2 separate regions of the Homo sapiens genome follow, and region 2 is linked to region 1. The links come from fine-mapping of genetic effects on gene expression. Tissue or cell type: sun-exposed skin. Region 1 holds a variant in brackets; the other region holds the start of a gene. All regions are shown on one strand. Distances are between the middles of the regions.

Region 1 (8,111 bases):
TAAGTTAAGAAGAGAACGTGTTTGCCTCAGTTTACCTTTGTTTAAAATTCAAGAACTTCTTTATATTCCATAGCTTGAAAAAACTCATCATACACTTAGAATCTATTTTGTTCTTAAAACACTTACAAATTTCTCCAACGTCAGGGTGGAGAAGGTCATATAAAGGATATTGAGTTCTCAGTATTCTTTGGTGAACTAAAGGTGACCACTAGCTACCATTTATTGACTGCCCACTTTGTAATAGATACTGGTTCTGTAGCACTCCATGCCAGATATTACATGTTGTATATAATATAATAAAGTTAGTAGCGGAACTTTCTAAAGTTGAGAAAATTCTCTTATGATTATTGTATTTACATTCAATTTGGGGTGAAAATGCACAATGATTTGAGAGGGATAATATACCCAATATTATATTTTATCTTTGAAAAATGTAAAAAAAAAAGACAGATTAAACTTTCTGACTATAAAACATAATATTATATTTTCTTGAAAGAAAATATTAACAGCTTAATGTGGCATTACATATTATATACAGGCCCATCAAAAAATGAGACAGGAGTTAACATTGGTGTATTAATTTGCTAAGTCTGCTGTAATAAATGCCACTGAATGGGTGGCTCAAAGACAGCTCTGGGGGCCGTTAAGTCCAGGATCAAGGTGTTAGTAGGGTTGGTTTCTTTTAAGGCCCTTCTCTTTGGCTTGCAGATGGCTGTCTTCTCACTCTGTGTTCATGTGGCCTTCTGTACACACTCAAGTCTGTGTCTAACTTATTTCTTCTTATAGGGACATCAGTCATATTGGATTAAGGTGCACCCTAAAGACCTTTTCTTACCTCAATCACTTCTTTTTTAAAAAAAACAAATACCTTATCTCCAAATCTGTTACATTCTCAGGTACTGGGAGTTAGGCACTTAATGTATGAAATTTGGGGGCCTATAATTCAGCCCATAACGGTTGTTATTAGTTGGCACTATGGATTGGATAAGCATAAAAATACACATATATTTTGGGAATGGGCAGGATAAAAATTTGAAGTTACCCTAGAAGTTAGGAAAGTGTACACCAGTACTGTGAAGTTCCCCCAAATAATTACAGTATAACCAGAAATGTATCATGATTAACCATCCTGTTTTCCTCCGTTTTGAATTTTGAATTTCACATGTTTATATGTATGGCATAAAATATAAATGTAGGAAATCTTTTCTTTAGATTTTATTTGTTTACTTATGTGTATCGTAATCTATTGAGTAAAGAATACCTGTTTCACTACAGTGATGGTGATAAAGAGTGGCCAAATGTGAACATTTATTTCAGCATTAATAGACCAATTTTGTAATATATGAAAGGTATGTTCAATGAAATGTCAGTTACACTCCCCTTCTTTATAATTTCTAAATGGCTAAACACATTGATATATCAATGTTTATGCTACAGTATAAAGGGAAGAATCCAATCCCTCACAAAATGATTACAATGTTTGCTATAGTATCAACAGCGTAAACTTCCAGGACTGTGTTGTTAGGCACTGAAGTCACATAGTGTCCTTTTCTTCCTGCCATCAGGGTCCTGAGGTAAAATTTGGAGAAAGATAGGAGGAGAGCAACAGCTTGTTTCACTTCCTCTACTCCTTCCACACTGCACGTGTTTTAGAAACCGGGCTAATGAAATTTACGTTCTATTTTCGAGGCTGTGCTCAGTTATTTCTCAGGAGGTCCAGTAAATAAAGAATTAATCTATTTGTTTTGTCTTTAGTCAAGTTATGAAACTAGCGAATTATTTACATTAAGTGGATTTGTTGTTGCTGTCGTTGCTGAAACTAGTGAAAGAATCGAGTTTTGTGCTATGAGTCATGGGAGCAAAACGTGAGTATTTAGAAGTGGAGAGGACCACGAAGAAGGAAGCCCTGGTGACTTGAAGAAATCATGGAGAGTTCTCCGGATTCCCACAAACCTATGGGGTTTAGATTCCAGCTAATACTTACACGGGTCTCAGAAGGACAGAGGGCAAGGGTTAACATCTGGCTGATATTAAAGTCTCTGCACCTCTTAATATTTTACTTTGGCCTAGTTTTCTTTTCTTCGCTTTTACATTTCCTGATATAATGAGTAATTCTCTTTTGAGTATTAACTTGTACCATGAACTATGCTAAATATTTTTACCCCTAAATGATGAAGAATTTTTATCATTTTTTGCTGAAATAAATGAGCAAATGAAAGATTGTTTACCTGGGATTATAGTAAATGGTAGAACCACATTTTAAATTCAGCTGGGTCTCACACACATTACAGACATTCAAACAATGTGGAAAATAATATTGAAAAAATAGATGGTTGGCCGGGTGCGGTGGCTCATGCCTGTAATCCCTGCACTTTGGGAGGCTGAGGTGGGCGGATCACGAGGTCAGGAGATGGAGACCATCCTGGGTAAGATGGTGAAACCCCTTACCCTCTACTAAAAAATAGAAAAAATTAGCCGGGCGGGGTGGCGGGCGCCTGTAGTCCCAGCTACTCGGGAGCCTGAGGCAGGAGAATGGTGTGAACCCGGGAGGCGGAGCTTGCAGTGAGCAGAGATCGCGCCACTGCACTCCAGCCTGGGTGACAGAGCGAGACCCCGTCTCAAAAAAAAAAGAAGAGAAAAAATAGATGGTATGTTCAGCATCATCAGAAGCAAATTTTATCAGCATCTCATCTTCTCATTCTCTATGGGGCCGGGATTTAATAGTGTGTAAACCGTGTTAGCAGGTTAAATGCAGGTGTTGTTAAATTATAATTTACATGCTGTACTGTACAAGAACAAAAATAATTCTAAAATTTTCAGATTATTGTGCTACAAAAAATGACCATCGTTAGCAAAAGGAGGATGGGGAATGAGACTTATGCATTTTTAAGGTCATTAAACATCTCCATTAGCCATCTCTGGAGTGGTGACTATCACATTAGAAGGGGACCGCTTTGCATCTCCTAATGATGACATTTCTATCCAGCTGTACTGAAATAGAAATAATGTTAAAAGGAGTCAGAGCGCCCAGTGGAGAAAATTTGACAGGTAAAGAAGAAAAGAGAAAGGAACAAATAATGGGCTGCGGGTTGAATTTTATGAACATGAGCAGAACTTTGAACATTTTTAAGTATAGTTATTCAGGCTAGGTG[A/G]GTGGATTGCATCCCCTTCCAACTTATTCTGAGGACAGTACCCAGAGTGAACATATTAAATGTATGTCAGATCACACCGCTATTCTGCTCAAAAGAATTTTCCATCTTCCCATTTCACTTAGAATATTAGCCACAGGCCTCAGAATGGCAAAAACAGAATTACCCTGTTGGTACTTAGCTGAACTCTTCTCTCACTGTTCTCCTCCAGACACAGCTGGCTTCCTCACTCTTTCCGGAATGTGCCAGGCATACATCTGCCCTAGGATCTTCACACAATTCCACCAGGATGATGGTATCCACATGGCACTTTCCCTCCTCAAAGTTCATTTACATTTCACTTTCTCAGTGATGCTTACCCTGACTACCCTATTAAAATTGCAGCTCACACTCCTCAACCTTGACATTACTAATCAATTTTAACCTGGTCTATCTTTTGTTTTCAGTGGAACTTATTACATACTGGAATATGGAATATTGTACCATTTGTTTACTATCTTTAGTCTTTATGTTTAAACTTCCTGGAATGGAAACCCCATGAGTAAAGGAATCTGTGTCTATTTTGTTCACAGACGTATTTCAAGCACCCTGAAAAATGCCAAGTACTAATTAGGCATTCTGTAAATGTTTGTTGAATAAGACAATGAAGAGGCAAATTAAATTAAATACAAAATAGTTTGTTATCCAGGACATTTCTGACTGTATAGCCAAAGCTTTAAAATGAAGATAAGAATAATTTTATAAAATGAATTAGACACATATCAACCCTAGGGAGAATCTTCAAAGTGGTCTGCTCCTTTGAAAAGCCTTAAACAGGAAAGCTTTTATTTAAAGAATGGGCTGGGCATGGTGGCTCACACCTGTAATCCCAGCACTTTGGGAGGCCGAGGCGGGTGGATAACCTGAGGTCAGGAGTTCGAGACCAGCTGGACCAACATGGAGAAGCCTCGTCTCTACTAAAAATACAAAATTAGGCAGGCATGGTGGTGCATGCCCATAATCCCAGCTACTCAGGAGGCTGAGGCAGGAGAATCACTTGAACCCAGGAGGTGGAAGTTGCGTGAGCCGAGATCACACCATTGCATTCCAGCCTGGGCCACAGGAGAGAAACTCCATCTCAAAAAAAAAAAAAAAATGACACTGTGCTTCTGGAAATAACCTAATTATTACCAGAGGAAGGAATTCATGTCTATGCCATACAAGAGCTTTCACCCTTTAGAAGTGTTTTACGGAAGGTCACACACACACACACACACACACACACTGATCAAATTGCGGAATTCTCTGAAGCATACAGAGAATGGCATTTATTCTGGCAAGAACTGTGCAAATTGTTACAAGAAACATAAGGGATGGCAAGTATGAACAATTATATTTCAACAGATGCAGGAAGCAGTTGAAATATGGCTTCTCAACATCTGGGGCTTGCATACTTGTCATCTGGAAACCAGATTGGGTCAGTTACATGTGGAAAGGAATAAGTTATTGCCAGGCCAAATTTCCATATTAAAAGAAGTCTCCATTACCAGATTCTTTTTTTACAGACACCAAATAGACCAGGGAGTTACTAAAAATGGAAGGAGGTCGTGAGAAAGCAAGTCATACTATGAGTAGGACCTCACCTTATGAATTGCCTCTTTAGCAAAATCAACTGCAGAAAGGAAAGACATTGTCTGTTAAATGAAAGGTAATAAATGGAATTCGCAGGTGGACAAAAATACCTCCTGAAATCCCGTAACCCAGCGGGGTACAGATGAGACACGCCCTCTGCAGATACAGTGTGCAACTACCAGTGTGACTCTGAGTGCCCGTTTTCTGTCTCTGCACCGAAGCACCAAAAGCAAAGATTCCAGGCTGAAGCAAATTTTTTTTTTTTTTTTTTGAGACGGAGTCTTGCTCAGTTGCCCAGGCTGGAGTGCAGTGGCACGATCTCGGCTCACTGCAAGCTCCGCCTCCCGGGTTCACACCATTCTCCTGCCTCAGCCTCTCGAGTAGCTGGGACTACAGGTACCCGCCACCAGGCCCGGCTAATTTTTTGTATTTTTAGTAGAGACGGGGTTTCATTGTGTTAGCCAGGATAGTCTCGATCTCCTGACCTCATGATCCACCCGCCTCGGCCTCCCCAAGTGCTGGGATTACAGGTGACAGACACCGCGCCCAGCCAGTTTTACAGCTTTTTATAAAGATAAACATACTTATATGATGCAGCAATTCAATTTCTGGGAATTTATCCAAGAGAAAACTTGCTCACACAAAAATGCCTGTGTACAGCAGTTTCATACATAACAGTCCCACCCTAGAAACAAAAGTCCATCAACTAGTGATCAAAGAGATAATTTCTGGTATAACATGCAATAGGAATACTACTAAGAAATAAAAGGGAATGAACTACTTACCTGCACAACAACTTGAGTGAATCTCAAAAGTATTATAAATGAAATAAGCAAGAGACAAGACACTACATATTATATGATACCATTTATATAAAATTCTATGAAAGGGGCTGGCCGTGGTGGCTCATGCCTGTAATCCCAGTACTTTGGGTGACTGAAGCCAGAAGATCACTTAAGCCCAGGAGTTCAAGACCAGTCTGGGCAATATAATGAGACCTAGTCTCTACAAAAAATAAAATTAGCAGGGCATGATGGTGCGCGACTGTAGTCCCAGCTACTTGGGTGGGTAGGGCAGGAGGATTGCTTGAGCCAAGGAGGTCAAAGTTGCAATGGGCCAAGTTTTCCCCACTGCACTCCAGCCTGGGCAACACAGTGAGACCCTGCCTCAAAAAAAAAAAATTCCATGAAAGGAAAAACTATGTTGATATAAAGCAAAGTAATGCTTGCCAGGGTCCAGGGTCAGAAAAGATAGTGATTACACAAGGAAAAAAAGAAAGATGATGGAAATGTTCCATAGCACGGTTGTTGTGGTGTTTACATGATTGACTTTACGATCCTTTTGTTATGGATGAGTTAATTTTTAAATTCCTTCCTTAAACTAACAAGTCTGCCTACTTTTATCTTTGATCTAAAATTAGTACTGATGTTTTCCATTTGGATTGGTTAAGTCTCTTTTGACTGAAGCTTGCTCAGTGCCTAAATAAGTGATGTACATGAAAAGCTTTCTAGTCCTCTCCTACTGATCTCCATCGGTTAGCGCCTTGCCATGATTAATCCAGAGCTGCGGGATGGCAGAGCTGATGGCTTCATACATCGGATAGGTAAGTTTTATAGAGTGAATGAGAAGGAAGTAAAGGAAAGATAAAACAAAATACAGGACAGCTTAAAAATATGGACTCTTTACTTACTGTGAAAGTCTACTAAAGTAAGTGAGGGATGGGGAAGCACTTCCGGAGAATTGTGGAAGCCTGTTAGAGCATGTAGAGTTTTATGTCTGCAAGAGAGGGTATAAGCTTGTGTGTAAGAAGGTTTTGGGGCAGAATTTTATGGTACGTGTATTATATCTCAATAAGAATATTTTTAAAATGTACTTTCACAGGGAAAAAATTGCTTAACACTTTTATACAGAATAAAAAGCAAATGCTTCACTCTGGAAGGAGGCTTGATGATTGTGACTTCATAAGACTGAAAAGAACTTTTCAAAAATTTTAAGATTCAGCTAAGGCCAACAATGAAGTTTGTTTTCAGTGGATTGAAACATAAACAAACCAATAAATAAAAACAAGGTACACATACAAACACCCTCCATTCACAATAGTTCTGAGGGTTTATGTTAAAGAAAACGAATGAATTGTATGCCAAATGACTGGAATAGGAAGCCTGCCAAAACTTTAAGATAAAGACAGTGAAGAGATAAAAAGTAAAATCTTGAAATGAGTTAAGGACTCCAGCTGAAACCACTATCAGAGTTTACTGATATGAATTCCCAGGGCAATTGGGATAATTCTTTTAATAATAAGTAAGCCTGATACTCTTAAAGGTTGAAGAGACCTCAGTAGCTACCTAGTAAAACTTTTCATCTACCATACGATTTCTAGCTACAGCATTTCTAGCAGCCTATACTAGAATGTTTTCAGTGATAATATCTCTCTGTCTTAGAAGACTTTCCATTTTAATTTAAGGATGTTCTATTTAGAAGTTTCTTTAGGGTAAGGTTAAATTTACTTCGTTGTATATTCTAACTATTGGTCATAGTTACGAACTCTTGATCTATGAAAACTTCATAAGAAAATTTTTAAAAATTAGTCTACATTTTACACAATTGGACATTAGTATTACAAAAAGAAATAAGATTCCATCCCTTTAGCCAAATAAATTAGTCAGGCTTGTCTGGGTAACAGATTTAAGAGTTTAGAGAGTAAAAAGTGGAAGAAAATTTATCTCATTGCATAACGAGAAGACAAAATATGAAGTACTGTGAAGCATGTACTGGAAGATTATGAGAAAGCCGGGCTGCAGGAATCATTAGAACATCTAGTCTGAGAATTTAATTAAAGCATAATAAAAATGCTCCAAAAGAAAAGATATTAATGAAATGAAGAAGCACCAAGAACACAATAAAAACCAAGTGAAAATAATAATTATAGAAATATAGTGTTTGAAATAAAGAACACTTTGAGGAGTTAATTAATAGAATGGACGCTGATTAAGAATGAATAAGACCTAGGAGATGCTATTAAAAACATGACAGAAAAGAAAACAGTTAGAAAATATAAAATAAAAGCTGAGAGATATGAAAAATAGAAGTAGAAATGCCACCTTCTAGATAACAAGAATCTGAAACAGAGAGAGAGAAAAAAAGAATAGCGGATAGGAAATATTTGAAGAAATAATATTCCAACTTCTAAAACTAATAAAAGCCAAATACCTCAAACTGAAACTTCAAAAGTGTACAAACAAAATAGATAAGAAAAAAACATGCATCTGGCACAATAGAGTGAAAGAAAAATATACAAAATTAAAAAATGAGATAATAGGAGACGTTAGTGAAAAAGAGAAGAAATGAGAG
Region 2 (8,111 bases), 54 kb after region 1:
CTACTATTATTAAACGTTTTGGATTGTACTGACATAGACTTGTTAATTATTTGGTGGTGTTTTTGAGGACCTAAAAATGATGTCTTAAATTCCATATAAATTATACATACAAATACATATTATATATGATATAAATATTTGTTATAACATATTATATAAAATATAAATATATACAATGTAAACATATATATTATTCTATACATGTAAATTATATAGAAAGAATAATATATAAAATGTATATATCTATGTCAGGCACAATTACGTGTGTTATTCAATTTAGTGACTCACTGCTAAGAAATAAAAGAGGGAAAGAAATATTTATTAAAATTCTATTATATACCAGTCACTGTACTGGAAATATCCACATTTTATTTCACCTTACACCTGTAATATATTATATTTTTCTGGGTTTGACTCTTTAGACAGGAGTCAGTTTCAGCTTAGGTAGTATTAGATCTCCAATTAATGATGCTTATATGACATCTATGCTATAGTATTTCATCGCATTAGAGTTGGCAAGAATAGCTTCCTTATAAAGGAATAAACAAGTAATCTCTAGAGAGGTTAAACAGGGGCATGTATAATAATCCTCTTTCAATTTTATCTACTTTTTTCCACATATTAGCACTTTTGAATAAATTGGATGTATACACTTTTTTCACAAAACTATGACAGGTTCCTTTTATATGCAGACATCATATAATTAATATCTCAATCTACAATCATTTTAGTCAGTTTGCCAGGCTAGTGGCCAAAGAGAAAGCAAAGTAATTTGAGATACTCTGATAATTATTCCCTATTTTTTATTCTTTTATCTATAAACAAACATTTAATTTCATCACCTTGGTTGTACATTTCACAAATAATTTGTCTTCTAAGTCATAATAAAAGTGCTGTTTCTCAAATCTAATTTCTGTGTGGATGCTTTACTTCAATAGGTTTTATGGATTTACTGCATTTGATTAGATCTATAGTATATACTTAGAGAATTTACTGTATGTAGTGTACCTTTTGAAATTTGCTACTCAATTGTCTGTATTACTAAGTCCAAAATAATTTTCTTTCTTTTTCTTCCCTGTAGATATTTCTGCTGTTCAAGCAAATATGGAAAGACTTCTACTTAATTGAAAATCGTCAAAATACATTTCTGCAATTTTATGAGAAAATATCAATCAAGGGTATATGGATCTGTAGTTAACAAGTGCTCTTTCCATACATGCCAGGGAGGGAGACTTTAAACTTCTTGCCAAATAAGATTTATAAAAAACTGAACAATAGACCAAAAATTAATATTTTCATGTAAGCCATGATTTACATACTATATCAAGCCAGGTGAACAGAGAGCTGAGTACATGAAGTGCAGTATGCTGGCCTATCCTAGCACTGCTTGGCTAGATGCCATTGGCTTACACAGGGCTATATGAAGAAATTGTCTTACAAAATCTGCTGGTGCTACTATTGCAAGAACACTAATTGTATTATTTTATGTGCTTCATGAGAACTCAGGAAAATATTTTTTCTGATTTAGGATCAAGATTAATTATATCAATCTTAAGGAATAGGTGTAACTTTATCTTATACACAATGTGAACTGAACAACTGGTAAGAATTCCCTTAGGTCAGTAATAACAAGGAAGCTTGGAAGCAAATGTATAGCAAGCACAAACATGCCTACAGTAATTTTTCTGGCCCAATTTATTTTCCCAGCCCTATCCTTCCTTCATTCATAATTTAAATGGATATTATCTTATATTTTATGTATCAATACTCAGATTTTAAGTCTCTGTACACATTTGTATATTAAAAAGTAGTTTATAGATTAAAAAATAGTAAATTTAGTTTAACATCCACATAAAAGCATCATCAGGTAGATTTTTCTTATTATATATCAAAGTATTGAGATTTAAGAAGGCTAAAAGCTTCTGCCCAGAGCCATACATTTAGTCTGTGGGCTTTAGGGTCTGAATAATTTTTTTTGTTTTTTTATATATGGAGTCTTGCTCTGTCACTCAGGCTGGAGTGCAGTGGCATGATCTCAGCTGACTGCAACCTCCGTCTCCCGGGTTCAAGCGATTCTCCTGCCTCAGCCTCCCAAGTAGTTGGGATTACAGGCACACGCCACCATACCCAGCTAATTTTTTTTGTATTTTTAGTAGAGACGGGGTTTCACCATGTTGGCCAGGCTGGTCTCGAATTCCTGACCTCAGGTGACCCGCCCACCTCTGCATCCCAAAGTGCTGGGATTACAGGCATGAGCCACCGTGCCTGGTCTGCCTCAGTCAATTTAACACCAATGGTACTAGTTTTTGCTGCATGGAAGTAAGTTACTATTGAAAAAGTAAACATTTGTTTCATGATATTGAAACACAAAAAAGATCTGAGTCTTCAGATAATAACAAAAGTGTCATTTTGTGGGGGCAGGGGGTGCAGGGGAAGTTTGCATTTGCTAGATATAAAATGAGATTGTACACGAGAATGTTCAATACATATGGCAGAACTGCCACTGCGACTGGTAATTCTGAATTTCTGGCCTATGTCATCTTAACTTAGGTCTTGGCTATTTCAACAAGATTGTTTTCAAAATTCCTGAAAAAGCAAACAAAGCCAACCACAGAGCAGCCCTAAGGAGCAAAGATTAATGTTTTTTTGTTTTTTTTTCTCTCTTCTCGCATTCCCAGTAGATTGTTCTACCAATCCTATAGGGCTTTTACGAAGATTAAAAATATTATATATGTATAAGCATAAATATATATATAAGCATATATATACGCTTTAAGTTTATATAAACTTTAAGTTTTGTAGGAGGAAGTTTCTGTAAAAACACAATTTTTCAGCCTTTTCTTCGAAAGTGATGTTCTTATGCTACAACACACAGGATTACACATCGTCATATTCGCATTTCTCTTACCTCATGGCTCTGAAAATGCAGACTTTTTATTGTTGATGCTTTCATGAATCTAAATAATCTAACAGACAATTTATGACCATTTTTATATTCCTTATTATGATCAATGTTAAGATGTTAAAAATATTCTAAGATAATTCTCTTCCTAGAAGAATAATGAAATTTTAAATGCGGTGATGGGGAGCAGTATTCCTACCTTTAGATTTCTGCTTCGATTTACAACGATTCTTGAAACTCAGCGTCATATACCCATCTTCATTCTCCATCTCTTCAAATGTCTAATGTCTTATTATCCAGAAAATAGTACAAAGAAAATGGAAACTAATCTCAACCTTGGATATGTCTCTTTGGCACAAGGTACTAAAAGAAAACTAAAAGGAAGGCCAAAAATAGTCAAAATTTACTCAGACACAGATGTCTAAAACCACACAGGATGTGTTGGTAAATGAAAATGGATATAAGCTTGTTAATATCTGGCTACAATTCTGTGAATTTCAAGGTAAAGGTAGCTAGTGTGTTCCACTGTTTTCAACAAATGGACTTGTGTGTTCCTGCCACTTGTGTGCGGTGTATTAGAAACATAATTCCTTCCTTCATGTCTTTTATAATAAAGTAAGAGAAAAAATAAAATAAAACAAATAATCTCTAAACAAACAGAACAAATGTCTAGGTAAATAAAAATTCAAATTAAAAAAGTTAAAATAGCAATTTTGTTATTTGGGACATATTTGACTAGTAGAGTCCAAATAACGATGGTTAGATGGGACAAAAATAGGAAAATAAAAGATCAGCAAGTCTCAAGTTAGTGAAAATCGGAATCACTTGCAAAGAATTTAACTTTTTAAACTTTTTTGTTTGTTTGTTTGTTTTTCAGAAAACGCCAGGCAGATTTTCCTTCAGTAGGTGTGGCAGTTTATTTTGTGTCAACTTGGCTGAGTCACAGAGAGTCCAGATAGTTGATCAGACATCATTCTGCTTATTTCTGTGAGGGTGTTTTTGGATGGGATTCATATTTAAATAGGTGACCTTTGAGTAAGGCAGATTTGCCTCCTCTGTAATGTGACTGGGCCTTATTGAGTCAGTTGGAGCCTTGAATAGAACAAAAAGACTTGTCTTCCCTGAGTGAGAGAGAATTCTCCAGCAATGGCCTTCAGACTATCTGCAGCATTAGCTCCTCCTGATTCTACAGACGGTGGACTTTGCATTTGAATTGAGCCTTCCTAGGTACCCAGTCTGTCCATGCTCATTTGCAGAATTTTGACTTACCAGCCTCCATAATCACATTCCTTATTTTATATATATTTCACTTAACACGCACACACACACACACACACACACACATGCTAATGGTTCTGTTTCTGCTACGTGGCCACTCAATATCAATCCATTGATTTAACACCGAGTGTCTGGGGAAGGTGGCTGACTGTTTCCCACAGCACATGTTGTGTTCACCTGATTATTGAGTCTCCTCCTCAACACTGGATGTCACTTGTGAGTATTTACATGGGAATGAATATTTACACACGCCGCGTCCATTCTGCATGATCTCTATATGTACCTCTTAGCTTCTCATTCATTTTTCTATTTTGTTCTTTTTGAGTTTCCGACAAGTCATCTCACCTATTAGTTTCTGATAAGATGATTTAGATGTATTTCTCTGAGTGCTTATCCTTCCTGTTAGGTTCACAACCAGACATATTGTCCAAACTTCTGTTCAGTGGGAAGACTTACCTTCACTTCTGTCTTTCACAGTCTTCTCCTGAATGGGACTGTAGTGTGGCATCTATTCCAGCTGCCGTATTTTACATAACCACTGATAAACTTATTTTTTTCAACTACTTCAGTGTAAGATCGTACAGAACCCTCTTTTCCATCCCCAACCCGGGTCATAGGTATGGTTGAGGTGGAGATAGCAAAGGAATGCGAACATGTGCCATCGGAGTCTGAGCCATCTGCTCATGCAGTTTACTGTGCTTCTTTGGAACTGTTCAGGCCTTGCCTCCAAAATGGCACAATTATGTTTGTGATAAAATGCTTCTGTGCACTTCTAAACATAGGGTTCATTGGGTCAAAGTGGTCAAGTTGGATCAAGTTAATGGTGGTGAACATATGTCTTATAAAAATATGTAGTAGGTTTACTGCCTACTTTTCACCAGGAACAGTTGGCATGATAGCATCAATGTAATGAATCTATTGTGTGCAACCAGTTCTGAGGTATAACATATTGGGAGCTATATCAAGATGATTTAGTTCCCTCTGGGCCATCTTATAACAGAGATCAGGAGAGCTGACATACACCTGGGCAAGGCAGCAAAGAAATACTTGTTATTTCTGTTTGTAAATACAAGCCGGAAACCATCACAGGTTCTCAGCTTTTTCCCAGTGTATAGTCATTCAAGAAAATGACTGAAGTTTCCTCCGGTTTAGGTGTTGGGGAATAAATATCATAATTACACCTGTGGCCATGTTACAATGTCCTTCACCAAGAGACCAAACCTACCTCCTCCCCAGTTGAGTGGTTCCTGGTCTGCGAAGAGCTTTGCCTACTAACTATATGGAAGTCTGGGGATTGGGTAAGACACAATGAATCTCCTCTCTGAAAATACGGGCTAAGTTTCTGGGCAACATACATGTAATTTTCCTTAGCATATCAAGCAGCTCCTTAGTGAAATATCCTTTTTTGTTTGTTTTTCTTTTCTTTTCTTTTTTTTTCATTTCCCAAAACTTAAAATCAGCTAATCATTGTCACAGATTTCTGTGGATGAAAACTCTGATTACTAATCATTCCCTCTGGCTTATTGTGGCAACTGCAACCCCTTGACCTCTAGAATCAAATTATTGCCGTTGATATCAGAAAGCCTGATTCCGCTGTAGCATCTCCCAATACATCTATAGTCAACAGTGAACAGTTGCCACAGCAGGTCGTCACCAGGTTCCCTCACAAAAGCATTCTCCATCCCCCCATCCTCCTAAAAAATCGGTTCACAAAACTGACCTTGAAGAGAGGAAATCAAAGCCTGGAGGAGGCTGTAGAAAGGAGAGAGAAGGTGGTCAATGACTGCCTAGCCTCCTCACTGTATAAAAGGTAGCAACTTTAAAACTGTTCCCCCACCCTCCATCCTGGGCGCCAGACCCCTCAGTTCTACCCAAGGGCCATCAAGTACCTTCAGAAACTTCTCTTCCCTTTACCTTCTATGCCTGGGCCAATTCTCTCAGTATGGGTCTAACAGATTTGGTGGGATTGAATGCTGAAATATTTTAGAGTATCAAAACTTGAAGATGTCTAAAATTTGTATCTTAATGTTTTTCCCAAACTATAGATTTATTCAGTGTTCTCTATATAGTTAGTAATTAAGTTCTGTCAGTTTAACCCCCTGCGTATTTCCCTAGTAAATTCATTACTTCCCATTTTAAAAGCCATCATCTTGGCTCAAACTCCGTGTGGGCTGACATTATTCCTTCATGGCATTTAGTCTCCTTTTGCCCTCTCCCCTTGGCCCATATAAAACAAAAGAGTATCTTTAAGGGTTGAGATACTCAATAAATCTGATGCCCCACAAATCCAAAATAGACATAGAAAATGTGCATCTTTTACAAAATTCATATCCTCATGTATGAATTAGTTAATAAAAGGAAGTCTCCATTCTCTCCAGAAACGTTACAACTTCTACGCTTCTGAAATTTAGAATTTCCCACACCCATACCAGATTATCATTTTAATCTTAAATGGGCATTTTTTTTTTCAGACAGGGTCTTGTTCTGTTACCCAGGCTGGATGTAGAGGTGTCATCATAACTCACTGTACCCTCAAACTCCTGAGCTCAAGTGATTATAGACACATTTTTAATCTGATAGGCTGCTGCATTGTTTCACTTTAGATTTCTTGGATTTTCATTGTGTTTAGACAACTTTGGATACACTGACTGTATATGCATTGTTATGGGTTAACTATTTGTGCCTTGTTCATTTTCTGTTACTAATGTATTTATGACTATTCCTCTGTATATATTCATTCGTATATTGATTCATTCAATAAGACTTTTTGAATATATGTTATGCTACAGCCACAGTTCTAACCACTGAGAATACATCAACAAGTAAAACAGATAAACCCCTCTGATTTCATGACTTCGTGGAGCTTTCACTCCAGTGGCAGAGACAGAGACACATGTTACCCATTGCCCAGGAGTTCATATATGTTTTAAATGTGAGTTATTTTTATTGTCTTATGAAGCTCAGTTAGTGGTGCTGTCGTGTAACCATCGTCCAATTAGAGCTTTCATCTACATCCAAAACAGACCTTTCTGAGAACCAACTAAACTTTATTCCTTGTTTATCAGCAGGTAATAGGAAATATCTTAAACAGCCATAGACATGAGCCGAGGGAGAGGTGCCAGTGAAACAGTTGGATAGTATCATTAGTATCATTTCTGAAGCTTGCCTGTGCTCTCTGGTTGGCATAGGGGTCTTCAGCTTGCCTTTTCACTGAGAATCTGCCTGTGCTGATTCTGGATATACCAATCTCATCATATAATGAATTGCTGCTGGGAGTGCCTGAACTTATATTTGGTGAGTCTTACAGGTTTCTCTTTCCTTTTTTTCTTGAGAGGGAGTCTCGCTCTGTCACCCAGGCTGGAGTGCCATGGTGGAATCCTGGCTCACTCAACCTCTGCCTCCCAGGTTCAAGTGATTCTCCTGCCTTAGCTTCCTGAGTAGCTGGGATTACATGCACCCACTACCACGCCAGGCTATTTTTTGTATTTTTAGTAGAGACGGGGTTTCACCATGTTGGCCAGGCTGGCCTTGAACTCCTGACCTCAAGTGATCCACGCGCCTTGGCCTCCCAAAGTGCTGGAATTACAGGCATGAGCCACTGCGCCTGGGTGGGTTTCATTTTATTAATGGCAGTTCAGAACATACGGATGCCTGCTGACTCACATCCAAGTAATCTATTTCTGCAAGGTCCAGTAGCATGCCAGGAGCTATTTCACAAAAGCTCTATAAATGCTTAGCTATAATTGACCTGGTATTGCTCTAGGACTCAAAGGATCAGTAGAAATTATGTTTCACCCGTTAGGACTTGGCCATAAATTCCACAAAATTTTTTCTCACCGTTGATACCTCTGGTATTACACAGTGCGGTAAGTTACATGGCTCCAGTGGTAGAGATGCTTCTGCTGCAGCCAGATTTGCGGAGGAGTCCATG

Evidence for each region. PIP is the estimated chance that this variant, and not a neighbour inherited with it, causes the effect.
Region 2: KLRF2 starts here. The variant in region 1 is fine-mapped to the expression of KLRF2 in sun-exposed skin (GTEx, PIP 0.98).

The regions. Positions count from the first base shown.
Region 1 is chr12:9,930,527-9,938,637 of GRCh38, reverse strand. CLEC2A (C-type lectin domain family 2 member A) reads left to right here and starts at 6,268. Exons shown (of 5, transcript NM_001130711.2): 1 at 6,268-6,363. The coding sequence starts at 6,309. LINC02470 (long intergenic non-protein coding RNA 2470) reads left to right here. Exons shown (of 5, transcript NR_104634.2): 5 at 1,824-2,059. The variant A/G (reference allele first, on the strand shown) is at 3,153.
Region 2 is chr12:9,876,656-9,884,766 of GRCh38, reverse strand. It overlaps KLRF2 (killer cell lectin like receptor F2), which reads right to left and starts at 3,278. Exons shown (of 6, transcript NM_001190765.1): 1 at 3,102-3,278. The coding sequence starts at 3,171. It also overlaps a transcript of CLEC2A not described here.